2 linked regions of the Homo sapiens genome follow. The protein of the gene in region 2 binds, or shares a complex with, the protein of the main gene of each other region. Each region holds a gene or a part of one and is shown on either strand. Other genes may lie near its edges.

Region 1 (15,300 bases), on a different chromosome or scaffold from region 2:
GTGTGGTACGTTACTCTTAGGAAGAGTCCGAGAAAGAAGCACCCTAGATGTGGGGAGGGAGTGCTTCTGAATGCTGAGAAGGAGAAGCATGCAAGACAGTCCTAGACTGCTGAGCACTTGCAGAGGCTGAAATGGGGACGGCACGGGCTGCTCTTGGCCCTAGGGGTTAAGCCCAGCTGGCTGGATGTCAACTTCTGGAGAGAGTGTACACACAGGTCCTGTGCCAGGTTGGGGTGTCAGCAGCTGTCTCAACAACCTTGAAAGGTTCTTAAGTAGAGAGCCTCTGGTTTTTGGTTGGTTGAAGCAGTGATTTTTATTTTGGGGCAGGGAGCATTTGAAAACCCTGTAGCTCTTGACCATTGAGACCCAAGCAGGAGGACATTTTTCCAGGTTGTGAAACAAGGTGGTGACATTATCCAGAAGACTCTAAGGAAAGAGGCTTTGCTCAGGCTTTGATTTTTGAAAGAAATCAAGGAGTCAGGCTGGGCACAGTGGCTCACACCTGTAATCCCAGCACTTTGGGAGGCCGAAGCAGGAGGATCACTTGAGGTCAGGAGTTTGAGACCAGCCTAGCCAACATGGTGAAACCCCCGTCTCTATTAAAAATACAAAATTTAGCCAGGCATGGTGGTGCACACCTGTAATCCCAGCTACGCGGGAGGCTGAGGCAGGAGAATTGCTTGAACCCAGGAGGCGGAGGCTGCAGTGAGTTGAGATCACACCACTGCACTCCAGCCTGGGCAACAAGAGCGAAATCTCATCTCAAAAAAAAAAAAGAAAGAAATCAAGGAGTCAGAGAAATTGAGCCTTGGGAAAGTGGCTGGATGCTGTGTTGGGGATTGGTCCAGGACTTCAGCCTGGATAGGAAGATGCTGCTGGTGTGGGGTATGATGCCCCTGCTGTTTACCAGCAGAATATTGGAATAGATGTTTTCTAGTTATGCACTTAGCAACCTCCCTACCAGCACATCTGGGTAAATACAGATTTCTTTAAGTGCTGTTCCTTAGTAATTGTTTTTCATTTTGTTTAAAAAAATTCTCAAGGAGTGGGGAAGCTTACATTATAGACTCCCTGGAAAGTCTTCCTGGTCTGCATCGGCACTCCGTTATTTGAGGGTACCATTTCTAGGTAGCCATTGAAGGTAGTGCTCCGTGAGTCATCCTTTGAGCCTTCTCATGACTACAGCAGCGCTAAGGCAGCACCTTCCAGAAATTCTCTAAAGGGTTCTGTCAGATTCTAGTGTTGGTCCTAAGACTAATTTGAACTGGTGCTTCTTTAGAACTCAGAGTTTACAGAGTATTATTGGAAATTGGAAGGAACTAGACACCGCAGTCTGGAGACACTTACTGGCTGTGAAGTGTCTTTCAGTGATGTGGTGTTCCTGTAAACTACAGGAGGCTAAGGTTGAGGACGGCTGACCCTTGGGCACTTCTTAATGCTTAAGGTGCTTGCAAAATTAAAAGAACATTTGGAGACTTAGCACAGATTCTAACAATGAATGTAAACCCAGCAAGGAGCTGGGAATCCTCGGATGATGGGCGTCAGCTGCTCCAGAGGCATTAGGTATGGGTGTGCACAGAAGCTTGCCCTGGTCTCTGGAAACATCTCTTCTGTAGCTTGTGAGGGTGCTGTCCTTTCAGGGCACCTCCTCACCCTCTTTGTTGCTATGACACTTTGGTACTGTGCCCTCTGGCTCAGCTCTACCACAGCCTCGTTTAATGTCTCACTTGTTCCTGTCTTACCCAACCTTATGCCTTCATGTCCTCGTCCTTCCCTGGTACCCCTCACCATGCCACCGTCACCACCCCCACATTGATGCCGTTTTCTCTGGATATGGAGAAGTCTGTTCCTTCATCATCTTCATTGATTAATTGGGTGATTTCTTTTCAGTTTTCTGTTGCCTGTGCGTTCCATCTTATTTTACTTAAGAGTTTATTTAGCAAGTTGTAATTCTGTTTTCCTGTGGGTGCTTTTCCTAATGAACCGTTGTGGGTACATTTACAGGGATGAATTCATTTAACCCCATGTCCTTGGGGAACGTCCAGTTGCCACAAGCACCCATGGGACCTCGTGCAGCCTCCCCAATGAACCACTCTGTCCAGATGAACAGCATGGGCTCAGTGCCAGGGGTAAGTGTTCTCTTTCGCTGTGCTGCAGATAGCCCTCCCTCTCACATGGAACATTATCTAAGCAGCAGAATTCATGTCACTTGAGAATCCTGTGGTTCTTGTTCCTTTGAATTTGGGTTATGCTTTATTTCTTTCATCTCTCATTTTAAAAAAATTATTACTACACAGAATTATTTGACTGTTAGTTATTTTATTGGAATAACAAATTCATAGGAATGTGTGGCTTTGTGAGAATGTGGGAGTTCCAAGGCTGGAGAAGGCAGCCTCAGATATGTGGCCAGCAGGGAATTGTCAGCATCTGTTGACTGAGAGCTCGCTGTTCCGAGGCTGCTTTCTAAACACTTTAGAGAACTCATAGGCATGTCTTAAACTTTAAATTATAGCCTGCTATTGATTTCTATTCAGAGGACATTTTGAAGCTGGCTCATTTGAGAGATTGCCTGAGAAAGTGTGTAAGGTGCCCAGGAGCGCGGGAGTTCTTAGCAAGTGGTGGTCTCTTCCCATGAGGAAGGGCAGGATGTGAGCCCTGTGCTTGCCATCCTCTGGGGTTGTGAAGCCTTGGATCATTCTGGCTCACCTTGAAAACTCTGGCCGTCAGCTTCCGAACTACAGCTCTGGTGGTGCTTGTTGTCTCGTAGATGGCCATTTCTCCTTCCCGAATGCCTCAGCCTCCGAACATGATGGGTGCACACACCAACAACATGATGGCCCAGGCGCCCGCTCAGAGCCAGTTTCTGCCACAGAACCAGTTCCCGTCATCCAGCGGGGCGATGAGTGTGGGCATGGGGCAGCCGCCAGCCCAAACAGGCGTGTCACAGGTACTGTGCCCCACTGGGACCGTGGCTCCCTAGGAAATAAAATTCTTGTGTTAAGTTTTGGTTTTTTTTTTCTGTCTTCCTTCGTGGAAATTAAAATTCCAGAATGCACATTTCATGTCTTTGTATCAGCTTCTCTTTGTTTTCTCCACCTTTGTCCTGTAGTCCTTAACTCGTTTGGAATTTCTCTTATCCTTTCTGGGTTAACTATATGCAAAAGTGGGAATGGATTTAGAATTTTTGGTTTGTATGCTTTTGTGTTTTGATCTTTGAGTTTTTGTTTTCTTATTTTTTGTTTGTGTATTTTAAATTCTAACTTTAACGTGACCCTGAGAGGCATTAGGATTTTAAAAAGCGAGTGAGAAGGACCCATGAATTCACTCTTGATGATTTGGCTTTTGTTTCTTTTGACCTGTCTCCACTGCCAGGTGAAATCAAGCTAACAGAATCATTTCAATAGTTCCCTTCTTGTTAAATGTTTTTAATTTCTCAATCTAGAGCTGAAGAAATTGATTTTCCATTTATTCCTTCCTTTTTTCCTCTTTTGTTAGTTGTAGTGCGTATCATTGCTACTGTATACAAAATATACATGTATTTAAAACACACCAAATCCTCCCTAAAAGATAAAATTCTTGTTTTAAGTTTTTTTTTGTTTGTTTGTCTGTTTTAAGACAGGGTCTCGTTTTGTTGCCCAGACTGGAGTGCAGTGGTACAATCTCGGCTCTGCAACCTCCGCCTCCCGGGTTCAAGCGATTCTCCTGCCTAAGCCTGCCAAGTACCTGGGGTTACAGATGCCCGCCACCACACCCAGCTAATTTTTTTTTTTTTTTTTTTTTTTGTATTTTTAGTAGAGACGGGATTTCACCATGTTGGCCAGGCTGATCTCGATCTCCTGACCTCAGGTGATCCACCCACCTCGGCCTCCCAAAGTGCTGGGATTACAGGAGTAAGCTACCGTACCCAGCCTTGTTTTGAGTTTTTAATGTGAAATAATGCTGCATAAGTCATTATTATATATTAGATTTCCTCACTAAATGATTATTCTTAACTTTCCATAACATTTCATTTCTCTAGAACAAGGATTAGCAAACTTCGTGTAAAGGGCCAGATACTAAATATTTTCAGCTTTGCAGGCCATTCAATCTTGGTTTTCATCACTTCTGTTCTTGTAGTGCAGAAGCTGCTGTGGTACATAAATGAGGTGGCTGTGTGCCAATAAAGCTTTATTTACAGAAACAAGCAGCTCAGTGTGTTTGCCCTGGGAGATTGCCAACCCCTGCTCTAGAACAGTGATTCAGAATCATTTTTAAAATGTTCACAAATAATTCTGAAGTGTATCCCCAGTATAGAACCACTGCACTGAAACAGTTCTCTTTCAGTAACTAACGTGTGTGTGTGTGTGTGTGTGTGTGTGTGTGTGTGTGTTTGTGTTTCAGAGAGAATTTTTTTTTTAAATTTTTAATTGTTAAGGGTACTTATGGATGTATATATTTATGGTCAATAACTTTTATTCTTATTTTTATTTATTTATTTTATAGTCCCCAGGGAAGAAGCAACTTAAAAAAAAAATACCTTTTTCTAAGCTAAGCTTAGAAAATGTTAAAGAACATTGGGTACATGTTATAGAACATGAAGCTTATAGGCTGGGTCAATGTACAGTAGCTCCCCCAATCTGTCATTTCACTTTCTGAGGTTTCAGTTACCTGGGGTCAACTGTGGTCCAAAAATATTAAATGGGAAATTCTGGGAATAAACAATTCATAAATTTTAAATTAATTAGCTAGGCATGGTATTGCACGCCTGTAATCCCAGCTACTGAGGAGGCTGAGGCAGGAGAATCACTGGAACCCGGGAGATGGAGGTTGCAGTGAGCCAAGATCATGCCATTGCACTCCAGACTGGGTGACAGAGCGAGACTCTGTCTTTTTTTTTTTAAAAAAAAAAAAAAAAAGTTTTAAATTGAGTGCCATTCCAAGTTGCATGATGAATTCTGTCACCATCCCACTCTGTGCCCCCAGGGATGTGAATCATTTATTTGTCCAGCATTTCCACACTGTAGACACTACCCACCTCTTAGTCACTGAGTGTCCACCTTGGTTGTCAGATCCAAAAATCTTGGTAAATATTGGGTTCAGTACTATCCGCAGTTTCAGGCGTTCCAAGACTGGGGGTCTTGGAATGTATCCGAGTGGATATGAGGGGACTGCTGTAGATGTGTGTGTTTAAGCCATAAGTTTCAATGGTTGTTTTAATTATATAAATCAGACTATAAGAAACGTGTGTAGTTTTACCGTTATTGAGGAGTGCCCATTACAAGTGTATAGCTCGATGAATTTTCACAAGCAGAACACTCCCAAGAAAATGTGATTAAATTCCCATACATTTGGCTGGGCGCGGTGGCTCACGCCTGTAATCCCAGCACTTTGGAAGGCCGAGGCGGGAGGATCACTTGAGGTCAGGAGTTTGAGACCAGCCTGGACAACATGGCAAAACCCGATCTCTACTAAAAACAGAAAAATTAGCTGGGCGTGGTGACGGGCACCTGTAATCCCTGCTACTCGAGAAGCTGAGACAGGAGAATTGCTTGAACCCAGGAGGCGGAGGCTGCAGTGAGCCGAGATCGCACCATTGCATTGCAGCCTGGGCGACAAGAGTGAAACTGTCTCAAAAAAAAAAATTTTTTTTTCATACATTTAATTTTTCAAATGTTTCATCACATTTTCAAACGGGGGAAATAATTTTACCATACTCTGTCCATTTCTGGTAGGGACAGGTGCCTGGTGCTGCTCTTCCTAACCCTCTCAACATGCTGGGGCCTCAGGCCAGCCAGCTACCTTGCCCTCCAGTGACACAGTCACCACTGCACCCAACACCGCCTCCTGCTTCCACGGCTGCTGGCATGCCATCTCTCCAGCACACGACACCACCTGGGATGACTCCTCCCCAGCCAGCAGCTCCCACTCAGCCATCAACTCCTGTGTCGTCTTCCGGGCAGACTCCCACCCCGACTCCTGGCTCAGTGCCCAGTGCTACCCAAACCCAGAGCACCCCTACAGTCCAGGCAGCAGCCCAGGCCCAGGTGACCCCGCAGCCTCAAACCCCAGTTCAGCCCCCGTCTGTGGCTACCCCTCAGTCATCGCAGCAACAGCCGACGCCTGTGCACGCCCAGCCTCCTGGCACACCGGTAAGCCTCTCTGTCTCTGCTGTTTTTGGGCCAAGACTCTTAGAAGATAATTTTCCCATAAAAATTGTGTGTCAGGCCAGGCGCGGTGGTTCACACCTATAATTTCAGCACCTTGGGAGGCCAAGGTGGGAGAATCACTTGAGCCCATGAGTTCAAGACCATCCTGGGCAACATAGTGAGACCTCGTCTCCAGCAAAAAAAAATTTTTTTTAACCAGACAAGCATGGTGGTGTGTGCCTGTAGTCCTGTAGTCCCAGCCACTCAGAAGGCTTAGGTGGGAAGATCACTTGAGCCTAGGAGGTACAGGTTACAGTGAGCCAAGATCACGCCACTGTACTCCAGCCTGGGCAACAGAGCGAGACATTGTCATCTTTTGTTTGTTTACTTAAAACTCCATTGAGGCTGGGCGCGGTGGTTCACGCCTGTAATCCCACTACTTTGGGAGGCTGAGGCAGGCGGATCACCGGAGCTCAGGAGTTCGAGACCAGCCTGGCCAAAGTTGTGAAACCTTGTCTCTACAAAAATATAAAAATTAGCCGGGCATGATGGCTGGTGCCTGTATTCCCAGCTACTCGGGAGGCTGAGGCGGGAGAATCGCTTGAGCCTGGGAGGCAGAAATTGTATCGAGCCGAGATTGCGCCATTGTACTCCAGCCTAGGTGACAGAGTGAGACTCCGTCTCAAAAAAAAAAAAATTCCATTGAGTAAGAATTTGCAAATTAGGAATTCTTTTAGTGGTTCCTTCGTGTAATGTTCATTTACTCCACCAGCACCCGTGTTCCTACCGTTCACACAGGCTGGGTAACACTGTCTTTGGGTAGGCACTTGATTTCCCTCCCTTCAGATGTGCTTAGGCATTCATAATTCAGCCTTTTACCATACACATTAACCACCATATTGAAGGGAATTAATTTCAAAATATGAGATTTCATGATTTAGCTAGAAAACTTCGAGAAAATAAATTTATGTCAAAGTTTGAAAAGCTCTGCTGTTTCCTCTGCCTTTGTGGCAAGACCTGAGTTGTACCTCTGGCTGCTGTTACCTCCCTCTAGAACTCATTCCTACTTTAACCCCTGTTCTTCGGTTTCACAGAAGGGCACCTGCTGGATCAGTATTGAGAAATGTTAATGGGAAATTGTAGGTTGCATGAGCAGCATAGTTGAAGATCATTTATGTTACCTTGCTTACTGAAGTCAGTGCTTTCGGTTTTTTCACAGCTTTCCCAGGCAGCAGCCAGCATTGATAACAGAGTCCCTACCCCCTCCTCGGTGGCCAGCGCAGAAACCAATTCCCAGCAGCCAGGACCTGACGTACCTGTGCTGGAAATGAAGACGGAGACCCAAGCAGAGGACACTGAGCCCGATCCTGGTGAATCCAAAGGGGAGCCCAGGTCTGAGGTGGGTGCCGCTCCCTAGGAATGCATTGACTGCGTATCGCAACTTTACCCAGGTGTCCTCGGGCGAGGCTTGGAGCCTGCCATGGGTATCCCTGACTTTAGTTAAAATATTCTGTTTGAATGTGGGTTCGGGGTTTGGTGTATAGGAAATTGATTGAAAACAGCTTGGTTTTTCATTTTTAAATATGAGGGGTGGGTTTATTTTGCCCGAAATGAAGAATACTGGCTTATATTTGAAATACTTGAATCATCCAACAGCCTTTTATTTTATGTTCTCCATTCATTTCTAGTTCTGCAGAGGTAGACTACAGAAGGGGTGGTGGATTCATTTACTAATTAACCTATGGCAGAAGCTGAAAGCTGGCAGACCGTGGGCTGGATCCAGCCTCTAAATGTGTTTGGCCCACACAATACCTTAAAAATCAGGAAATTGCAAATAAAACTCTAGATTTCTGGCTTTTCTTGAAAAATGAGATGCTTTCAGCATTGTGCCTGCATCCCTGTGTGACAGCAGTCTGGTTGTGAGCACCAACTGTAGTGGGCTCTCCAATTAGCCACAGTCCCCACTGCTCCTTCCTGTCTCATACCACACCTGCCTCTGAGAAGGACTTTTGGTCCCTGCCCCAACTTTCAAGGAGATTTTTATTCCAAATTAGAAATATCTGTAGTGAAAAATCTGAGTATGTGCAATTTTTAAAGCAGTTTTACATTTAAAAACTTTTAAATTAGGCTGGGAGCTGTGGCTCACACCTGTAATCCCAGCACTTTGGGAGGCCGAGGCAGGTGGATCACTTGAGGTCAGGAGTTCGAGACCAGCCTCGCCAACATGATGAAACCCCATATCTACCAAGAATATAAAAAATTAGCCGAGTGTGGTGGCACACACGTGTAATCCCAGCTACTCGGGAGGCTGAGGCAGGAGAATTGCTAGAACCCAGGAGGGGGAGGTTGCAGTGAGCCAAGATCTTGCCATTGCACTCCAGCCTGGGTGTTAGACTCTGTCTCAAAAAAAAAAAAAAAAAAAAAAAAAAAAAAAAACACTTTTAAATTTAGGACCATAATTGCACTGACTCTGTGCTGAAGCGACTTAATGAACACCAAGTACTTTATTTCTTCTTCCGGAAGAGAAGAGGAATCATAAATGCAACTCTGACTAGAGGAAGGTTTTAACAAACCTGTTTTAGGCTTGTAAGAGTCTTCCCGTGAGGTTGCGGTAACATAAAGGTGTTTGATATTCATATGTTATCTGTAATGTTTTTCTCAAGATGATGGAGGAGGATTTGCAAGGAGCTTCCCAAGTTAAAGAAGAAACAGACATAGCAGAGCAGAAATCAGAACCAATGGAAGTGGATGAAAAGAAACCTGAAGTGAAAGTAGAAGTTAAAGAGGAAGAAGAGAGTAGCAGTAACGGCACAGCCTCTCAGTCAACATCTCCTTCGCAGCCGCGCAAAAAAAGTAGGCCATTTATTCATTACCTTATTAAAGCATGCTGCTTTTCCACGGTGTTAGGATTCCATGTGGAGGATTAAAAGCTAAAGTAGAAACATAATTCTATCTGCCCTTTTACCTTTCTTGCCTGCCATTCCCCAGACTTTCCCCTGCAGAAACACTCAGGCTGAGCAGGACCCCTGCCCTGTGCCTGTGGGGCTCATGGCAGGAGTGAGAGATGAGCTGCTGCTCCGAGGGCACCCAGGCTGCAGAGCTGTCTTCTGATGGTGCTGGCAGGGGCCGAGTTGAAATGTGTCTGGGTCCTTGAGCAGGTTAAGGAGCTTGGCTTTACTCATAAAAGTATAAAGAACCAGTGATGTATGTGAGTAGGAGAATAACCAAAAAAGCCATAATTTAAGGAAGATGGTCATTATGACAGCACAGGGTGACTTGGAGGCAGAAGGTTTCTGCAGGTGCAGTGAGGAAGCTGAGCATGCAGAGTGAGGGGCAGGGTGGCGCCTAGGGACCCTGTGTAGTGAGACATGGGGGAGGGGTAGGTTAGGCATCTTTGGGGTCTGAGATGTGTGAGGTAAGCCCGCCTCACAGTGGAAGTTGGATGGAATCCATTTGAGATGTATCCACAGTAAAGAGATAACAGGGTATCAGAAAATTGTCAAGTGAACCTTAGAAATGGGAGACAGGACTCAGAAAGTCCAAGGCTGCAGATGACACTTTTGGGAAAGATTGCAGAGAAATGTTAGAGACTGAGACCATGTTACTCTGCAGCTGGAAGGGACCCTGGAGAGTGTGGAGTACAGTGAATCTCAGGGCTCTTTATACTCTTAGAAATTGAGGGCCCCAGAGAGTTGTTGTGTGGATTATCTATCATTGCTTACTCTACTGGAAACTAAAGTTGAGAAATTTGAGTACAGTGGCTTACACCTGTAATCCCAGCACTTTGGGAGGCTGAGATGGGAGGCTTGCTTGATGCTGGGAGTTCAAAACCAGCCTGAGCAACATAGCAAGGCTCCATCTCTACAAAACTAAAATAAAACTAGCTAAGTGTGGTGGTGCACGCCTATAATTCTAGCTGCTCGAGAAGCGGAAGCGGCAGGATTGCCTGAGCCTAGGAGTTTGAGGCTGCAGTGAGCCCAGATCACATCACTGCACTCTAGCCTGGGAGACAAAAGTGAGATTGTTGTCTGAAAAAAAAAAAGAGAAAAATTTTTAAATATTTAGTTCATTTAAAATAGTCTGTTACATGGCACCCATAGAAAACATTTATATGAAAAACAATTTTTCCAAAACAAAAATAAGTAAGAATAGTGGCGTTATTAAGGGTATCTGCCTCTGCATTTACTGTGTTGTGATTGGTTATTTTGGTTGAAGTGTATGAAGAAAATCCTGTAGTTGGTAAAGGGAGAAGTATTTTCGTAGCCCTTTCAGCTGATTGTGGATATTCTTTGATACTATACCAAAATTCAGCCAGTGAAGGTTTCTTAAAGGTTAGTTGCGACATTGAACCAGAATCTATAGCACTGGATTTTTCATAGTCTGTGACATTAGAATCCATTGATCCATCTTGTACTTGGAATGGATCTTTTGTGCTTGCATGATTTTTTTTTCAATTGACACTTAAGTTCTGCAGATTTTCCATATGTTGACATATTTCACTATACAGTGTCAAAAAAAAATCAACATTTGTTAATACCACCATCAGTCTCTTCAAACAAGTCTTACCAACTTAGAAAAGCAGGGCGTGCATGGTGGCTCACACCCGTAATCTCAGCATTTTGGGAGGCTGAGGGGGAAGGATTGCTTGAGCCCAGGAATTCAGGGTCTATGATTGCACCACTGCACTCTAGCCTGGAGCTCAGGAGTTCGAGAGCAGCCTAGGCAACATGGCGAAACCTAATCTCTATTAAAAAAAAATTAGCTGGGTATGGTAGTGCATGCCTGTAGCTGCAGCTACTCGAGAGGTTGAGGTGGGAGAATCACCTGAGCCTGGGAGGTCAAAGATGCACTGAGCCTTGATCATGTCACTGTACTCCAGCCTAAGTGACAGAGTGAGGCCCTGTCTCAAAAAATAATACTAATAATAAATTTTGAGAAGCTGTGAAGCCCATGTACAAGTTTTCCAAAGCATTTGATTTTTTTATGAAAGCCCAAATTTTAGCATTGGCAACAAATACTGTCAGTTGTCCTTGAAGTAACTGGCCCTCTTTGTTCATTTCTGAGAAAATGTCTGACATATAACCAGAGCTTAGTAACTATAGCTTATCTCTCAGTCATTCCTGAAAGTTTTAATGTGCTCCACGAGGGCAAGCAGCTACTTCAGCTGTAAATTCCAACACTTGCCCAAGTACTGCCTCCTGATGTGGCCACTGTGCCTATGCAGCGCACATCTTTTATTCTGTGTGAGGAGATAGGCAGAATGTTTCATCACACAGAATAAAAGACATGTACCAGGCGGCCAGACGCGGTGCCTCACACCTGTAATCCCCGCACTTTCGGAGGCCAAGGCAGGCAGATCACGAGGTCAGCAGATCAGGACCATCCTGGCTAATACGGTGAAACCCCGTCTCTACTAAACAAAATACAAAAAATTATGCGGGCGTGGTGGCGGGCGCCTGTAGTCCCAGCTGCTCGGGAGGCTGAGGCAGGAGAATGGTGTGAACCCAGGAGGCAGAGCTTGTAGTGAGCCGAGATACTGCACTCCAGCCTGGGAGACAGAGCGAGACGCCGTCTCAAAAAACAAAAACAAAAACAAAAACAAAACAAAAAAAAAAACCACACACATGTACCAAACGCTTAAGATTTAATACAAGGAATACTTTTTACTATCTCATCAAGAATATTTTTTCAGCCAGGTGTGGTGGCTCACATCTGTAATCTCAGCACTTTGGAAGGCCAAAGTGGGAGGATCACTTGAAGCCAGGAGTTCAAGACTAGCCTGGGCAACATAGTAAGACCCTGTCTCTACAAAAAATTAAAAATCAGCCAAGTGTGGTGGTGCATGCCTGTAGTCCTGGCTACTCAGGAGGCTGAGGCAGCAGGATCACTTGAGCTCAGGGGTCCAAGGCTGCAGCAAGCTGTGATGCCACTGTTGGACTCCAGCCTGGACAACAGAGCAAGGCCCTATCTCAAAAATAAATTAATTAATTAAGAAATGAGTGGACACAGTGGCTCCCACCTATAATCCCAGCACTTTGGGAGGCGAACACAGGAGGATTACTTATGGCCAGGCGTTCAAGACCAGCCTGGGCAACGTAGTGAGACCCTGTCTCTACAAAACAGTTTAAAAATTAGCCAGGTGTGGTGGTGCACCTGTAGTCCCAATGGCTCAGGAGGCTGAGGTGGGAAGATTGCTTGAGCCCAGGAGGTTGAGGCTGTAGTGAACCATGATTGTGCCAGTGCGTTCTAGCCTGGATGAGAGAGTGAGACCCTGTCTTAAAAATAAAGAATATTTTTTCTTGGCTGGGAGCAGTGGCTCATGCCTATAATCCAAGGACTTTGGGAGGCTAAGGCAGGAGGAATACTTGAGGCCAGGAGTTCAAGCCAGCCTGGGCAACATAGCAAGAACCCATCTCTACCCAAAAAAAAGAAGAAAAATTTTAAACAAATTTTCTTAAGCATGGCTGGTATTTTTTTTCTTGTGACTGTACAGCAGCAGCAGTGTGTGTGATAACAGTAGAGTTTGGTGATGTTGGCTTTCTTTTCCTTTGTTTTTGCTTTTTAGCTGGGTGTGGCAGCATGCGCCTGTAGTCCCAGCTACTCGGAAGGCTGAGGCAGGAGAATCACTTGAACCCAGGAGGTGGAGGCTGCAGTGAGCCGAGATTATGCCACTGCACTCCAGCCTGGGCAACAGAGTGAGACTCCTTCTCAAAAAAAAAAAAAAAAAAGATTGCTTTTTTCCCATCTGTGCAGATGTCCAACATAGTGCAAAAGGCAAATGATAATTTAGTGTTATAAAAATTGTTTCAGGCCGGGCGCAGTGGCTCACACCTGTAATCCCAACACTTTGGGAAGCTGAGGCGGGTGGATCACCTGAGGTCAGGAGTTCCAGACCAGCCTGGCCAACATGGCGAAACCCCGTCTCTACTAAAAATACAAAAATTAGTCGGGCCTGGTGGCGCATGCCTGTAATCCCAACTACTCAGGAGGCTGAGGCAGAAGAATCACTTGAACCCAGGAGGCGGCAGAGGTTGCAGTGAGCTGAGATCGTGCCATTGCACTCCAGCCTGGGCAACAAGAGAGAAACTTCGTCTCAAAACAAAATTGTTTCAGGCTGGGCTTTGGGGTTCACACCTGCAACTCCAGCACTTTTGGAGGCTGAGGTGGGAAGATCACTTGAGGCCCAGAGTTCAAGACCAGCCTGGGCAACATGGTGAGACCCTGTCTCTGTAGAAAAAAATAAGAAAATAGCTGGTTATGGTGGTGCATGCTTATAGTCCCTCATGCTACTCATGAGGCTGAATTAGGAGGGTTGCTTGAGCCTAGGAGGTCAAGTTTGCATGCAGTGGGCTGTGATTACGCTACTGCACTCCAGAAGACCTCGTCTCAAAAAAAAAAAAAAAATTGGTTTCAGTTTTGGTGAAATAGTTTTCATCTTACAGCACATAGAAGGGCCTAGGGCAGTGCTATAACTTGAGCACCTAAAATGTGACCAGGGTGGCCGGGCGTGGTGGCTCACCCCTATAATCACAGCACTTTGGGAGGCCGAGGCGGGCGGATCACGAGGTCGGGAGATCGAGACCATCCTGGCTAATACAGTGAAACCCTGTCTCTACTAAAAGTACAAAAAATTAGCCGGCCATGGTGACAGGCGCCTGTAGTCCCAGCGACTCGGGAGGCTGAGGCAGGAGAATGGCATGAACCTGGGAGGCGGAGCTTGCAGTGAGCCGAGATCGCGCCACTGCACTCCAGCCTGGGCGACAGAGCAAGACTCCGTCTCAAAAAAATAAAAATGTGACCAGGGTGACCGAGGAACTGAGTTTTTTATTTTTTGTAATATTATTCGTTTGGTAAAATTTCAGTAGTCACAGGGGCTGGGGACTGCGATATGAGACAGCAGCCTCCAAGGGCTCGAGAGCCGCGTTTTTGGGAGATGCTGGTGCGCTGCAACAGCCCTGCCGCGTGGAGCAGGTCCTCGGGCCAGAGGAGGGGAGCGGCGCAGTTCACATACACTCCTGACTTCACTTCTGCACATATGGGATCTTCTTACAGAAAGGTGCTGGTGAAGACAGGAGTCTGAAAATGCTCTCCTCGGCCAGGCACCGTGGCTCACGCCTGTAATCCCAGCACTTTGGGGGCCGAGATTGCACCACTGCACTCCAGCCTGGGTGACAGCGCGAGACTCCATCTCAAAAAAAAAAAAAAAAAAAAGGAAAGAAAATGCTCTCCTCAGCACGGAATTTGAATAGTTATTTAATGAATGAATAAATGATCAACCAAAGTGACACTTGTTTCAGGCCCTGTCACTCCCGATTACCACTGGGGCGGTGACAGGGTCTGCAGGCCTTCTCCGTGCAGAGGCCCAGTGATCCACGCTGTGGGCTTTGTGCGTCCTGAGGCCTCTGTTACCACTCCTCAGTGCTGCCACTGTGGCACGGAGGCAGCTACAGATCCTATATAAACGAATGAGCACAGCTATGTGCCAATAAAGCTGTATTTTTGGAGACTAACACTTGAATTTTGTGTGATTTTCACATGTCATGAAATAGTATTCTTTTCTTTTTCTTCTGCCAAACATTAAACAATGTGAAATCCATTGTTAGCTCTTGGGCCATACAGAAAAGCAAGCAGCTGGCCACATTTGGCCTCTTGGTCATAATTTGCCAACCCCTCATTCAGAGAAATCAAAAGGCTATTTGTTACATAATTGTTTTCTCATAAAAAGTTATTCAAAGACTAGCAAATGCTGCTTCGTCTGTGCATAAAACAGAAGAAAGGAGTTAGTAGGAAGCAAGGCTGTGTGTTTCCGACGCTTCCCACTGTGAAGGGCACGTCTGCACCCTGGACCAGGCCTTTGCACCTTCAAGTGCTGGGGACCGTGTGCGTGGGGAGTGCTGCGTCGGGGTTTTTACCTGGTTGCCCGGACCTCAGGCTGCTGTCAGAGGTCTGAAGCAGCCACGTGCCCTGGAGAGGAGGCGGTGTCTGCGGAGGTTGGTCAAGAGTCTGTATCCTGGGCTTTGATGGAAATGAGCCCTGAGGCATGTTCTTGGTGCGCCTGTTTTCATCTCTAAAGTGAGCCTGTTAAACACATGGGTTTTTCCTTCCAACTTTTAACTTTTGCTTTCACCAGTTAGGAATCAGATGACGCTTTCCAGAATTTGTCAAGTTAGACCAT
Region 2 (15,300 bases):
CTTTGATGGAGGTCTCACTGTGACACCCAGGCTGGAGTACAGTGGCAGCATAATCTCAGCTCACTGTAGCCTCAGCCTCCCAGGGCTCAGGTGATCCTCCCACCTCAGCCTCCCAAGTAGCTGGGATTACAGGTGCACACCGCTGAGCCCAGCAAATTTTTGTATTTTTTGTAAAGATAGGGTTTCACCATGTTGCCCAGGCTGGTCTCAAACTCCTGAGCTCAAGTTATCTGCCAGCCTCGGCCTCCCAAAGTGCTGGGATGACAGGCATGAGCTACCGTGCCCAGACCACTGTTAGATTTTCATATGAATAGTTTCACCACATCAAAAAACCCCATGCTTCACCTATTCAACCCTGCCTCTCCCACCCCCAGCCAGCTCAGAAATGGTTCTTTTTACCATTGCTATAATTTTGCCTTTTCCAGAACGCCATGAATTTGAAATCATATAGTATGTAGCCTTTTCAGACTGACTTCTTTCATAGCAATATGCATTTAAGAGTCATCCATGTCTTTCCATGGCTTGATATCTCATTTCTTTTTACACTGAATGAGTTCCCACTGTCTGTTTGTACCACAGTTTGTATATCTATTCACCTATCTAAGGGCATCTTGGTTGCTTCCAATTTTTGGCAATTAATAAAGCTGGCCATGCACAGTGGCTCACACCTGTAATCCCAGCATTTTGGGAGGCCAAGGCGGGCAGATCACTTGAGGTCAGGAGTTTGAGACCAGCCTGGCCAACATGGTGAAACGCTGTCTCTACTAAAAATACAAAAATTAGCCGGGCGTGGTAATGGGCACCTGTAATCCCAGCTACTTGGAAGGCTGAGGCAGGAGAATCACTTGAACCTGGAGGCAGAGGTTGCAGTGAGCTGAGATCGTGCCACTCCACTCCAGCCTGGGTGACAGAGTGAGACTCTGTCCCAAAAAGAAAAAGAATAAACTGCTGTATACATGTGTAGGTTTTGTGTGGACAGAAGTTTTCAAATCAGTTGGACAAATACCTAAGAGTGTGATTCCATCATACAGTAAAACTGCTTTGCTTTGTCAGAAACTGCCAGAATGTCCTCCAAGGGGGCTGTCTCATGTTGCATTCCCACCAGCAATGAATGGGGGTTCCTGTTGCTCCACATCCTCACCAGATTTGATGATGTCAGTTTTGTGGATTTTAGTCATCCTAGTAGGTGTGTGGTGACACCACATTGTTGTTCTCATTCTCAGTGCCCCGATGACATATCATGCTGAGCATTGTTTCATATGCTTACTTGCCATCTGTATATCGTCCTTGCTGAAGTGACTGTTCAGATGTTCAGATCTTTTGCCCATTTTCTTTCTTTTTTTTTTTTTTTTTCCTTTTGATACGGAGTCTTGCTCTGTCGCCAGGCTGGAGTGCAGTGGCACAATCTCAGCTCACTACAACCTTTGCCTCCCGGGTCCAAGCGATTCCCCTGCCTCAGCCTCCCAAGTAGCTGGGACTACAGGCACGCACCACCATGGCAAGCTAACTTTTTCTTTTTTTTTTCTTTTCTTTTTTTTTTGAGATGAAGTCTCGCTCTGTCACCCAGGCTGGAGTGCATTGGTGCGATCTTGGCTCACTGCAAGCTCCGCCTCCTGGGTTCACGCCATTCTCCTGCCTCAGCCTCCCGAGTAGCTGGGACTACAGGCGCCCCCACCACGCCCGGCTAATTTTTTTGTGTTTTTAGTAGAGACGGAGTTTCACCGTGTTAGCCAGGATGGTCTTGATGTCCTGACCTCGTGATCCGCTTGCTCCGGCCTCCCAAAGTGCTGGGATTACAGGCGTGAGCCACCACGCCTAGCCCCCATTTTTCAATTGAGTTGTTTGTTTTAAGACCTCTTTGTATATTACCACATGTGTATTGAAAATATTTTCTCCCAGTCTGTGGCTTGTCTTTAATTTTCTTAGCAATGTCTTTTGCAGAGCAGAAGGTTTCATTAGCTTTCATAGATTCCAACTTATATTTTCTCTTTCATGGATTGTGCATTTGGTGTTGCCCACACAGATTTTTATACTGTATTCTGGTGCCATTTACTGAGTTAACAATTGCGGAAGAACTGGAAGAAAGGAAGCAAACAAAACGAGTTCTGCGTGGCACTGTCAGTGCGGGGGCATGGGGAGTCCTGCAGGGTGAGGTATGGGCGGTATGGCAAGGCGCGGGCCCATAGATGTGCAGGTCTGGAGATGTGTGCAGCGGAGATGTGCGGGCCCGAGATGTGCGGGTCCGATGTGTGGGTCCGGAGATGTGCGCGTACCCAGAGGTGCAGATCGGAAATGTGGGGGTCCGGAGGAAATGTGCGGATCAGGAGAAGTGCCAGTCCCGAGATGTGCGGATCGGAGATGTGGAGGGCTAGGAGATGCGTGGGTCCGGAGATGCGCAGATCAGGAGATGGGCGAATCGGAGATGCGCGGGTCCGGAAATGTGCAGAGCGGAGATGTGTGGATCAGGAGATGTTGGGGGGTCAGGAGATGCGGGGGTCCAGAGATGTGGGGGTCCGGAGATGTGCGGGTCTGGAGATGTGCAGAGCAGAGCAAAGATGAGCTGATCGGAGATGCCCAGGTCCGGGGATCCACGGGTCCGGAGACGCGCGGGTCCGGAGATGCGTGGGTCCAGAGATGTGCGGGTCCAAAGATGTGCAAATCTGAAGATGTGTGGATGGGAGATGTGCAGGTCCGGAGATGCGCGGGGCGGAGATGTGTGGATCGGAGATGCTCAGATCGAAGATGTGGGAATGAGGAGATGTGCGGGGCGGGATGTGTGGATGGGAGACGCGCGGGCCCGGAGATATGCGGGGCGGAGATGTGCGGGTCCAGGGATGTGTGATCTGAGGTGTGTGGGTCCGGAGCTCGGGGTCAGCTCAGCAGCAGTGAGAGCGAGCATGCTGGCTTTGGGAGCACAGCACAATGGCAGCTGTAGGAGTGCAAGAGGGTGTGACCCAGAGGCAGGGCCCGGCCCCGCATGGGTGTTCTGAGGTTTATGCCTCAGCACTAGAAGCCTCGTATGCGAAATCACATCCTCATAGACCCGGTTCAGACACAGGATAGTGATGCCTGGACTATTCATCCGTCTCTCCTCTTTTTCCCCAGACACGCTTTCACCAGCTTCGAGCCCCTCCTCGGTGACTTATCCTGTGGTCCCCGGCAGCGTGGACGAGTCTCCCAGTGGAGCATTGAACATCGAATGTAGAATCTGCGGGGACAAGGCCTCAGGCTATCATTACGGAGTCCACGCGTGTGAAGGCTGCAAGGTAGAGGGGAGCTGGAACAGGGCCTGGTGGCCGCCACCATCAACTACTTATGGTCACTTTTATAGCAAATGGCAGTCATTACTGAGAGATTGCAGAAAGTCCCGGATAAGAAACTGACTTCAGGCCAGGCGCGGTATCTCATGCCTATAATTCCAGCACTTTGGGAGACCGAGATGGGTGGATCACCTGAGATCAGGAGTTCGATACCAGCCTGGCCAACATGATGAAACCCTGTCTCTACTAAAAATACCAAAAAAAATTAGCCAGGCGTGGTGGTGGGCGCCTGTAAGCCCAGCTACTCGAGAGGCAAAGACAGGAGAATTGCTTGAACCCAGGAGCCAGAGGTTGCAGTGAGCCAAGATTGCGCCACTGCACTCCAGCCTGGGCAACAAGAGTGAGACTCCATCTTAAAAAAAAAGAAAGAAAAAAAGAAAAAGAAAAAGAAACTGACCTCAGTGATAGATTAGCCTCTCTTTATAGCACAGAACCCCTGAGAGCGTAAGCCCTGTTGTGAACTGCGTATTTGAGGAATCTAGCTTGTACGCCCCTTATGAGAATCTAATACTTGATGTTCCAAGGTGGAACACTTTCATCCTGAAACTATCCCTCCCCACCCCCATCTGTGGAAAAATTGTCTTCCATGAAACCGGTCCCTGGTGGCAAAAAGGTTGGGGATTGCTGCTTTAGAGAGTCTAGGACAAATGGTTCCTCTGTGCTTTGTAAATACTTAGAGAAGTGCATTCTTTAAAAGAAAATAAGTCACATTGGACCGGGTGCAGTGGCTCACGCCTATAATCTCAGCACTTTGGGAGGCCGAGGCGGCTGGATCACCTGAGGTCAGGAGTTCAAGACCAGCCTGGCCAACATGGTGAAACCCTGTCTCTACTAAAAATACAAAAATTAGCCAGGTGTGGTGGTGGGTGCCTGTAATCCCAGCTACTTGGGAGGCTGAAGCAGGAGAATTGCTTGAACTCAGGAGGCGGAGGTTGCAGTGAGCTGAGATCGAGCCATTTCACTCCAGCCTAGGCGACAAGAGTAAAACTTCATCTCAAAAAAAAAAAAAAGAGAGAAAAGAAAATAAGCCACATTAAGAACATCACTTCATTCGAATACAAGACAGAGAGCTGTTACCGTTGATCTCTGGAGCCTCCCTGAAGGCCAGGTGGGGCAGGTGTTCTCATGCTCCTGCCAGGGAAATTGGCCATCAGAGACACAGAGTATCTTGCTTAGGGTCCCACAGCCCCCAGCAGCAGGGACTGGAACCAGAGACTGGCTGCTCCTGCTCCCCAGCAGTTCCTTCCTGCACATCAGGGGCTTCTCCACCTGATTCAAGCGACAGGAACCCCCTGTGCATCTTCATCCTCCTGCTGGCTCAGCCTGCCCTAAACAGATGTGACCTGGGCCAGGAGTGCATGAAGGCAGGCCCTGTTGTCCTGCATGCTGCCAGCTGGACTGGTGGCCCTTCCGTGTTTGTCAGCGTGGTGATGAGGAGAGCTCCTGTAGCAGCGTCCCTTTAGGGTTGCACAGACGTGCTCAAGTCTGGCGCCTTATGTACGTGATATGTGGGAGATCATCATCTGAATGTTTGGTTTGAATCAGAAATCCCTTCTCACGGTGCACGCTGCAGGTGTTCACTAACTTGGAAAATGCCACCGCCTTTCTGGCACAATGTACCATCTTGGAACACCAGCATTCTGCCCTGAGCCAGGCCTGGCCTCAGAGGCCTGGGCCACAGGGAGAACCTCACAGCCAGGACACTGTGGCACTCTGCTGTCTAGAAGCCTGTCTCCCCACCCTTCCCATTCTAACCCCATGCGTTCCTCAGCCTCCCCACTGTGCAAGCCTAGGTAAGGACATTATGAAGACGTCAGCCTGCCTCTCACATTCCCCTGCACACTGCTGTCCCTCTCCCGCGGGCCAAGCAGACCCACTGTGGCAAAAATATAGAAGAATGACTTAAAAGCAAAGAGAAAAAAGAACCCAAAGCAAAAATGAACTCCTTCGCATGTTTTCTAACCATATACCTTTGAAAAAGCTCCTTATAAAGTGGCCTTTTCCTTAGGGCCATGATTAATTATTCATTTAGTTTTGTTTTTTATGGACTATTTAGTAACATTGTTTCTTGCTGGGTAGAGTTTAAGATGCTTTTACAAAGCAAGAAAATTGTTTACAAACAGCTGGCTTCCTTTTATTATAATTTTTGTCTTTGAGGGAGTTAATATACTCTTACAAAAATTCTTAGAAAGTCTTTAGTCACAAATATGGAAATGTCACAATGCTGGGGATAGTTACATTCATATACATTGTAACAAGGCTGAGTAACTCTTTGGAAAACTATAATTGTGTTTTCCCAAGTCAGATGAGGGCATTTTGAAATGACTTCGAATGCTGCCTCATTTTATTGTTTTTCACATTAAATGTAACGACATTTAAAGTTCTGTATTTGTCCTAATCATTCCAGACTTCTTAGAAGAACTATTTCTTTCTTTTTTTTTTTTTTTTTTTTTTTTTTTTTGAGATGGAGTCTCACTCTGTCGCGCAGGCTGGAGTGCAGTGGCACAATCTCAGCTCACTGCAACCTCCGCCTCCTGGGTTCAAGTGATTGTCCTACCTCAGCCTCCTGAGTAGCTGGGACTACAGACTTACATCACCATGCCCGGCTAATTTTTGTATTTTTAGTAGAGACAGGGTTGCACCATGTTGGCTAGGCTGGTCTCGAACTCCTGACCTCAGGTGATCCACCCGCCTCAGCCTCCTAAAGTGCTGGGATTACAGGCATGATCACCATGCCTGGCCTGGAATAACTTTTCTCTAAATTTTGTTCATTTAAAAAGAAACAATAAATGAGCAACAAAAAAGGTGAGTAAAGCAAGTGCGCTGGTTTCTCAGTGGCCCAGGTCTTTAAATCCACTGTGTATTACCCTCACAGGGCTTCTTTCGGCGAACGATTCGACTCAAGCTGGTGTATGACAAGTGCGACCGCAGCTGCAAGATCCAGAAAAAGAACAGAAACAAATGCCAGTATTGTCGATTTCACAAGTGCCTTTCTGTCGGGATGTCACACAACGGTAGGTAAGGTGGCCCTGCACATTTTCCCAGTTCGTTCCTCAGTTCCCCTTCCTTGCTCCAAGGGAACAGATCAAGCTATGGATGAATGTGCTTCAACATTTCACACCCAAGTCATTTTGTAATCAGAGTGGCCTAAGAAAATAAAAGTCGCCCAGGCGCGGTGGTTCACGCCTGTAATCCCAGCACTTTGGGAGGCTGAGGTGGGTGGATCACCTCAGGTCAGGAGTTTGAGACCAGCCTGGCCAATATGGTGAAACCCCGTCTCTACTAAGAATGCAAAAATTAGCTGGGTGTGGTGGCACATGCCTGTAGTCCCAGCTACTCGGGAGGCTGAGGCAGAAGAATCGCTTGAACCCGGGAGGCGGAGGTTGCAGTGAGCTGAGATTGCGCCACTGCACTCCAGCCTGGGCGACAGAGGGAGATTCCGTCTCACAAAAAAAAAAAAAAGAAAAAGAAAGAAAGAAAGAAAATAAAAGTCTCCCAGGTGCGGTGGTTCACACCTGTAATCCCAGCACTTTGGAGGCCGAGGCGGGTGGATCACTTGAGGTCAGGAGTTTGAGACCAGCCTGGCGAACATGGCAAAACCCCGTCTCTAATAAAAATACAAAAATTAGCTGGGCATGGTAGTGCACACCTGTAATCCCAGCTACTTGGGAGGATGAGACAGGAGAATAGCTTGAACCCGGGAGGCGGAGGTTGCAGTGAGCTGAGATCGCACCACTGCACTCCAGCCTGGGCGACAGAGTGCGACTCCGTCTCAAAAAAAAAGAAAAAAAAAGAAAAAGTCTCAAATAGCTGAGATTCAGTGGTGCATTGGACTCGCTGTTAGAAACTTCAGTGGTAAGACTTTGATACAGAATCGAAAAACCAAGTGGAAGGCACCAAAATGACAGAATGTTCACCTCGTCCATAGGAAGGGTGTACCACCTCAAACATCTCACCACGTTATGAATTTCCTTCTAGCCAATCATTTAATAGTTTCAGAACATGCTAATTGTGATGTGAATGTAAGTCGTTCATAAGAGTTGCATGTCTACCTTCTGGAAAAAGAAGCAGTTATTATATAAACTCATCCCGAAGCCCCGTTCACCTCCTTCACTCAAAGGTTGATGATGCACCTGATAGTGGTGTGCACCCTACTAATGAGACGAACGATGGTGTCACCTTCAGCCTGCACCTGTTAACGATGGTGTCACCTTCAGCCTGCACCTGTTTAAACATCTACAGTGTATGGAGTTTGAGTTTTTCATCTCTCCATAGTGGAAAGCCGAATAGTAATGAAGGATGGGTCTGAACTGCCTGTGAATTTTCATTCCTGGTTTAAAGTCCTGGGGGAGCCCCTCGTCCAGCCCTGTCCGCGCAGTCATGACCTCACTGCTCATGCCTGTGTTTCCCCCTCCAAACCCTAGCGATTCGTTTTGGACGAATGCCAAGATCTGAGAAAGCAAAACTGAAAGCAGAAATTCTTACCTGTGAACATGACATAGAAGATTCTGAAACTGCAGATCTCAAATCTCTGGCCAAGAGAATCTACGAGGCCTACTTGAAGAACTTCAACATGAACAAGGTCAAAGCCCGGGTCATCCTCTCAGGAAAGGCCAGTAACAATCCAGTAGGTGTTTGCGGCTGTTCTGGGTTCTCTTGGCAACATGGAACCAGTGTCGTAGAGGACGATTAAGGACACATGTGTTGAATGTTGAGAAAATTATATTTATCCCACAGTTAAGCAAAGGACAGCGAAGATGGAAACAGTTCATTCTGAGACTCTGAGCTGTAGCTTAACAACAACTCCTTTCTTCTTGCTTGGAGCCACCTCAAAGCTCTTAGCAACTAAGTTATTATACTGGCTATGTAATTAATACACTTAAAAAAAACCTTAATAGCTTACCAAGTACTAAGATGATTTCTTAGGAGCATTTTTTCTTAAATAGAGATAGGTTCTTGCTCTGTTGCCCAGGCTGGAATGCAGTGGTGCAATCATAGTTCACTGCAGCCTTGAACTCCTGGGCTCAAGCAATCCTCCTGCCTCAGCCTCCCAAGGAGCTGGGACTACAGGTGTGCACCACCACACCTGGCTATGTTTGATGTTGTTGTTGTTTTGTTTTGTTTTTGTTTTTTGGTAGAGATGAGATGTTTCCCAGGCTGGTCTCAAACTCCTGGCCTCAAGTGATCTTCCCACCTCGGCCTCCCAAAGCACTGGCATTACAGGTGTGAGTCATGGCACCCAGCATTAACTGGATTTAAAAAAAAAAAAACTGACCAGGCAAGATGGGTCATGCCTGTAATCCTGGCACTCTGGGGAGGCCAAGGTGGGCAGATTGCTTGAGTCCAGGAGTTTGATACCAGCCTGGCCAACATGGAGAAACCCCAACTCTACTAAAGATACAAAAATTAGCTGAGCAGGGTGGCACACACCTGTAATTCCAGCTACTTGGGTGGCTTAGGCATGAGAATTGCTTCAACCCGGGAGGCAGAGGTTACAGCAAGCTGAGATCATGCCACTGCACTCCAGCCTGGGTGACAGATCGAGACCCTATCTCAAAAAAAAAATAGAATAATAAAATAAATCCCTACTTTGAGGTGTATTAGTCTGCTATAAAGAAATCCCTGAGACCTGGTAATTTATAAAGAAAAGAGGTTTAATTGGCTCGTGGCCCACAAGGCTGTACAGGAAGCTTCTGCTTCTGGGGAGGCCTCAGGGAATTTGACTCATAGCAGAAGGTGAAGTGGGAGTAGGCGTCTTGCATGGCAGGAGCAAAAACAAGAGACACACACTTTTCACCCATCAGATCTTGTGAGAACGCTATCACTAGAGTAGCACCAAGAGGATGGTGCTAAACCATTCATGAAGGATCACCCCCATGATCCAGTCCCTCCCGCCAGGCCTCACCTCCACCACTGGGGATTACAGTTCACCATGAGATTTGGGTGGGGACACAGAGCCAAACCATATCATAAGGCTAGAAAAGGAAACCACTTACTTCCCACTCAAAATGTGCTCTTGGTCCTTTCTCCTAAAACTACTCCCTCCCTCTCAGACAAACATGCCTACATTCTTTTTCCGCCTTCAGTGAAAAGACAGTGACATCTTGGGGCTTAGAAAGGGCCACTTGTAAGCCAGGCGTGGTGGCTCACGCCTGTCATCCCAGCACTTTGGGAGGCCAAGACAGGCGGATCACGAGGTCAGGAGATCAAGACCATCCTGGCTAACATGGTGAAACACCATCTCCACTAAAAATACAAAAAATTAGCCGGGCGTGGTGGCGGGCGCCTGTAGTCTCAGCTACTTGGGAAGCTGAGGCAGGAGAATGGCGTGAACCCAGGAGGCAGAGCTTGCAGTGAGCCGAGATCGTGCCACTGCACTTCCAGCCTGGGCGACAAAGCCAGCTGTGTCTGGGCGCGGTGGCTCATGTCTGTAATCCCAGCACTTTGGGAGGCTGAGGTGGGTGGATCACTTGAGGTCAGGAGTTTGAGACCACCCTGGCCAACATGGTGAAACCCCATCTCTATTAAAAATACAAAAAATTAGCTGGGCATGGTAGCGGTTGCCTGTAATCCCAGCTACTTGGGAGGCTGAGGCAGGAGAATTGCTTGAACCTGGGAGCTGGAGGTTGCAGTGAGCTGAGATCGCACCACTGCACTCCAGCTTGGGCAACAGAGTGAGACTCTGTCTCAAAAAAAAAAAGAAAGGAAAAGAAAGGACCACTTGTTATAGAAAGCCTGTCTTTTAAGGTAGCTCTGGACCTTTTCAGAGGCAGCCAAATTGCCCCTCATGGTTCGTCCCCCACATCCCCGCCTGCCTGGCCTAAGTCCTCCTTCCCCCTCCCCAACAGTTAAATAAGTCTTTGTCTCCATTACAAAACAAATCTCAGAGCTACCTTCAAAGAAGAGCCAGCCCTCAGTTGGTGAATGAAGATACTTTGACATTTTCCTATGAGCATGGTGAAACAGGTTTAATTTGTATTAAATAGCTTGAAGCAATCCTTATTGGGAATTACAAGGTGGAATTTTAGTCACAGGAAAATAAAGCATTTCACAAGCTACTTACTTTCATGAACAAACCAAACCTCTTCTTTACTGAGTCCTTTAATTCTTCAGTGAATTCTCCAATTAAATAGGCCGAGACATTTTAGAAGTTTCCAGCAGACACCCACACTAGGCAGCTCCAGAGGCTTGTCCCAATTAGAACTTTCCTGGATTACGAGAGTGAAAGAAAAGGTAACTTTTAGCTTCGAGTCTCTATCCTGGATATGATTAGTACAGCCCAAAATTGGGATGGCTAAAACTTTTGTTTGCCAGCTTATATTTCTCCCTTGGATTTCAGAATTGAAAGCAGGCTGGGCACAGTGGCTCACACTGTAATCCCAGCACTTTGGGAGGCTGAGGCGGGAGGATCACTTGAGGCAATCCAAGAGTTTGAGACCAGGCAACACAAGGAGACCTCGTCTCTACAAAAAATGATTTTTTAAAAAACTAGCTGGGCATGGTGGCATGTGCCTGTGGTCCCAGGTACTTGGGAAGCTGAGATGGGAGGATGGCTTGAGCCCAGGAGTTCAAAACCAACCTGGGCAACATGGCAAGACCACATCTCTACAAAAAATAAAAACATTATCCAGGCATGGTGGCACATGCCTATAGTCCCCGCGACTTGGGAGGTTGAGGAGGATGCCTTGAGGCCAGGAGTTCAAGGCTGCAGCGAGCCACGATCGCGCCACTGCACTCCAGCCTAGGCGACAAAGCGAGACTCTCTAAAAAAAATTCGAAGCAGAGTTAAGTTGTCTTTCTTCCTAACAACCTGCCCCCACCATGGGGTGCGAATGGGACTCCTGGAGTCCTCCTGCACCTCCCCTTGGAGACCACCAAGCTCTAGGAACCCCATCACCCTCAGCTGAGGGTCACATGCAGCAACTAGCAGGCGGGAATCTGTTTGCATTTTGGCCTTAAAGAAATAAATAATAGGCCAGGCGCGGTGGCTCATGCCTGTAATCCCAGCACTTTGGGAGGCTGAGGCAGGTGGATCACCTGAGGTCAGGAGTTGGAGACCAGCCTGACCAATATGGTGAAACCCCGTCTCTACTAAAAATACAAAAATTAGCTAGGCATGGTCGTGGGCACCTGTAATCCCAACTACCCAGGAGGCTGAGGCAGGAGAATTGCTTGAACCTGGAAGGCAGAGGTTGCAGTGAGCCGAGATCACACCACTGCACTCCAGCCTGGGTGACAGAGCGAGACTCCATCTCAAAAAAAAAAAAAAAAGAGGGCCAGGCGTGGTTGCTCATGCTTATGCCTGTAATCCCAGCACTGTGGGAGGCAGAGGAGGGCGGATTACCTGAGCTCAGGAGTTCGAGACCAGCCTGGGCAACATGGTAAAACCCCATCTCTACTAAAATACAAAAAATTAGCCGGGCATGGCAGTGTGCGCCTGTAGTCCCATCTATTCGGGAGGCTGAGGCAGGAGAATGGCGTGAACCTGGGAGGTGGAGGTTGCAGGGAGCCGAGATCACACCGGTGCACTCCAGCCTGGGTGACAGAGTGAGACTCCATCTCAAAAAAAAAAAAAAAGAAAGAAATGATAGATGAATAGTTTAGGATTGGGGTTCACAATTTGGTTTTCTGTAGAAAAAGAGAACCGGGCACTCTTCCGAGAGTCAGATGCCCTCTTCCACCCACACCCACAAAGCCAGAGCACCGCAGGTACCAGTTTTCAAGGCAACCTCCAACCATCATGTGACTCTTTGTGTTTGATCACACTGTTTGCTCCAAGCCAGGGTTGCGTCCCACCCCATGTCCTTGTCTGCGCACGGGACGCTGGAGGCACGGCCCCCTCCTCCCTGCCTAGCCTGCTGACGGGCTTTCCAGAGCTGGCTCCTTCAGGTGCAGGATACCCTCTCTGCTTAGTCTGGGAAAAGGCCCCGTTGGCAGGATGCCCACCACCAGGCCACACTGCCTGAATCTATTGGCAGAGCTCTGGTTTTGTGGCCAAGGTGGGTAGTGGAAGACCATAGCCTGTGTCCCTTACACATCTCAGAAAGCAACCCCATCTGTGGGCAAGAAATCTGTTAGGGAGACCAAGCAGCGGCCTGGAAACACCTTGATCTCTGCCCAGTGGCCCACATGCGGTCGCCGTTTCATCAGTTTCCAGCCTGGGTGACCTCACAGCCCCAGCCACGCCCCACAGAGCCTCAGGAAGGCACACTGACCTCAGGGCCGGCGGCTGACTTCATTTCTGTTTGGGGATGAGAGGCGGCACAGTAAACTGTCCAGGCCAGTAAACTAATGGATTCATACGAACCGTAATGAACGTGGGCTGTGTGCTGGGGAAGGCAGGCTCGCCTCCTCCCTGCAGGGGCTGCTGGGGTGAAAGCAACCCTGAAATGTTCAAAGCCTTGATGGGGAAGCACGGGGGATGGATAGATTTTAATTTCAAAGCAGCCCTCTGGTTTGCTATAAGCGGGGGACTGAATTTCTCTTTGCAGTGGCCAATGCCTTTCTTCTGTCAAGATCAGCTCGTGGCCTTCAGATCAGATGACGCAAAGCCCCATGGCTGAGCTGGAACAGGCTAGAATGCTGGGGGGGGGCCTGAAACCGGTGGGGGAGTTGTGGGAGGCCTAGAATCAGCCAGGAGGCTTGGGTCGGGGTTGGAACCGGCCAGGGTGCACGGAGGAGGCTGTGGGGGCAGGGGGAGGCCGCTGCATGGAGCCGCATAGATGCCATTGCTTGAGGAAAGGTGGGCTTTAGCTGAGGGAAGGAGTGAGGGGTGGATGGAGAATGTCTGTGTCCATCTGGACACTGGGACTGTTTGAGCCCCTGAGATTTCAGAACCGTGGGCCAGAAAATGGTCAGGGCCCTTGGTGATGGGGAAGGGCGCCTCTGGGGAACTCACTGCCCCTTGATTTGAGGGTAACAGGGATGGAAGCAGAGTCAGGGGGCTGAGGGAGGCAATAAAAATGGGTGCTTTTCAACAGTGTCTAAAAACATAAGATGTTGACCTGTCAGGGGTTGAGAATGTCGTCAGAAGACTTTGGAGGAAGCAACAGAAAATGAGACTGAGGGGCTTGGGCAGAGTCAGTGCCTTCTGTGTGATGCACGCTCATGCACAAATGCACGCACATACCCACACTCACACATCCGTGCACACACGGGTACACACACATACACGTGCACCCACATGCATGCTCACACACATGCACCCACAGTCACACATCCATGCATGCATGTGTACACAAACACACCCACACATACACATGCACCCACACGTGTACACAGATGCACCTCCACCCCCATACATGCACATGGACACACACATGCACCCACACGCACACAAGCATCCATGCTCACATGGGTACACACTCACACATCCATGCATGCACGTGTAAACACACACACCCCCACACATACACGTGCACCCACACATGCACACAGACGCACCTCCACCCCCACACACGCACACACACACATGCACCCACACATGGATACACGCACACTCACACATGTACCCACACCTGTGTGTACACACACACATGCATGCTCACACACATGCACCCAGGCACACACAAATCCACATTCACCCATACAGTCACACACATGCATACACACACATACAAACACATGCATTCACACAGATGCATACACACACACACTTACAAACTACACATGTGCTTATACATGCTCACATGCATGTATATGCACACACATACCCTCACCTTATGCACACATGTACCCACACACGTACCCACACATATACAAGCATGCACACATATATATATATACACATGCTCACACGCATACCCACACTCACATGTGTGCACATATGCTCACACACACGTGCACACACATGCTCACACACACACTTACTGTTGCTCAGGCTTAGCTGCTTTGGGCTTAAGAAGCAAACTGCACCTTCCAAAAAATGAGTGTGGTGTTCAGTTAAACAACCAAATAATTCTTTAGCACTGAATATGTGGACTTTAGAAATTCAAACTATAAGGTGATAATAACGTTGTCCTGCTACTTTTTAATCTAACAAACATATCAGAACTGACACTCAGTTCAAATGAAGAAAGTAGGAATTGGGCGTGCCGTGTTATTTTTTCAAAGATTCTCCTATTGCTCCAAATTGTTGGGGATTATCTTAAAGTCTTTGAATAGCTTCAGTTATGGAAGATTTTACCCTCTGAGAATAGAACTGAATTTTAGACAAACCATGAGTCCATTGTAGCTAGACTGGCATGCAAGTTGGGATTAAACAGAGTAAAACGTCTTGTTTAAAAAAATAAGAAAGGCCGGCTTGGGCAACATAGTGAGACCTCCTCTATGAAAAGTTAGCTGGGCATGGTGGTGTGCGCCTGTGGTTCCAGCCGCTCAGGAGGCCGAGGCAGGAGGATGGAGGTCAAGACTGCAGTGGACTGTGGTTGCGCCACTGTACTCCAGCCTGGGTGACACAGCAAGACCCCGTCTCAAAAAAAGAAAACAGAAAAAAGAAAAAAAAAGTTGAGCAAGGAGACTAATTTGTGACATGCAGCTGAACATGGTTTTTAAGACCAGTTTTGAAAGAGGAATTCCAACATTATTCTTAACATTTCAGAAGCCTGGGCATAAGGGTGACCTCCAGGGTGCCGTGTTATAACAGGACTGCTCCTTTCAACAGCTATGACCTTATACCATGTCTTGGGGTGTTGCCTGCCGTGTGACAGTCCAATATTATACCTACTACTTAAGTTTTCTTTAGATTAAAAAATGTGCTTCATATTTTATGCCATTTCTACAAATGTATAGTAAAACATAACCAAGAGAGCTTATTAAATAATTTCATCCAAAGCAGTTCTACCAGTGCTTCACATTTATTTTTTATTTATTTATTTATTTTTGAGACTGAGTCTCACTCTCTTGCCCAGGCTGGAGTGCAGTGGCGCAATCTCAGCTCACTGCAACCTCCCCCTCCTGGGTTCAAGCGATTCTCCTGCCT

What was found.
Region 1: the proteins of PPARA (region 2) and CREBBP are in contact, whole or in part, in a crystal structure (PDB 9IWL), measured with the Homo sapiens proteins. Residues at the interface, in NP_001001928.1 of Homo sapiens: Val284, Thr285, Thr288, Glu289, Lys292, Phe297, Leu302, Asn303, Gln305, Val306, Thr307, Leu309, Lys310, His457, Pro458, Leu459, Glu462, Ile463; in NP_004371.2 of Homo sapiens: Asp62, Ala63, Ala64, Lys66, His67, Lys68, Gln69, Leu70, Ser71, Leu73, Leu74, Arg75.

The regions. Positions count from the first base shown.
Region 1 is NC_000016.10:3,761,398-3,776,697, reverse strand, and holds part of CREBBP (CREB-binding protein), read left to right. Parts: intron 1-2,004; coding exon 2,005-2,129; intron 2,130-2,767; coding exon 2,768-2,947; intron 2,948-5,711; coding exon 5,712-6,128; intron 6,129-7,344; coding exon 7,345-7,524; intron 7,525-8,788; coding exon 8,789-8,978; intron 8,979-15,300. UniProt on the Homo sapiens protein: Acetylates histones, giving a specific tag for transcriptional activation. Mediates acetylation of histone H3 at 'Lys-18' and 'Lys-27' (H3K18ac and H3K27ac, respectively).
Region 2 is NC_000022.11:46,212,068-46,227,367, forward strand, and holds part of PPARA (peroxisome proliferator-activated receptor alpha), read left to right. Parts: intron 1-3,105; coding exon 3,106-3,266; intron 3,267-6,195; coding exon 6,196-6,334; coding exon of another isoform or gene 6,335-6,338; intron 6,339-7,744; coding exon 7,745-7,947; intron 7,948-15,300. UniProt on the Homo sapiens protein: Ligand-activated transcription factor. Key regulator of lipid metabolism. Activated by the endogenous ligand 1-palmitoyl-2-oleoyl-sn-glycerol-3-phosphocholine (16:0/18:1-GPC). Activated by oleylethanolamide, a naturally occurring lipid that regulates satiety.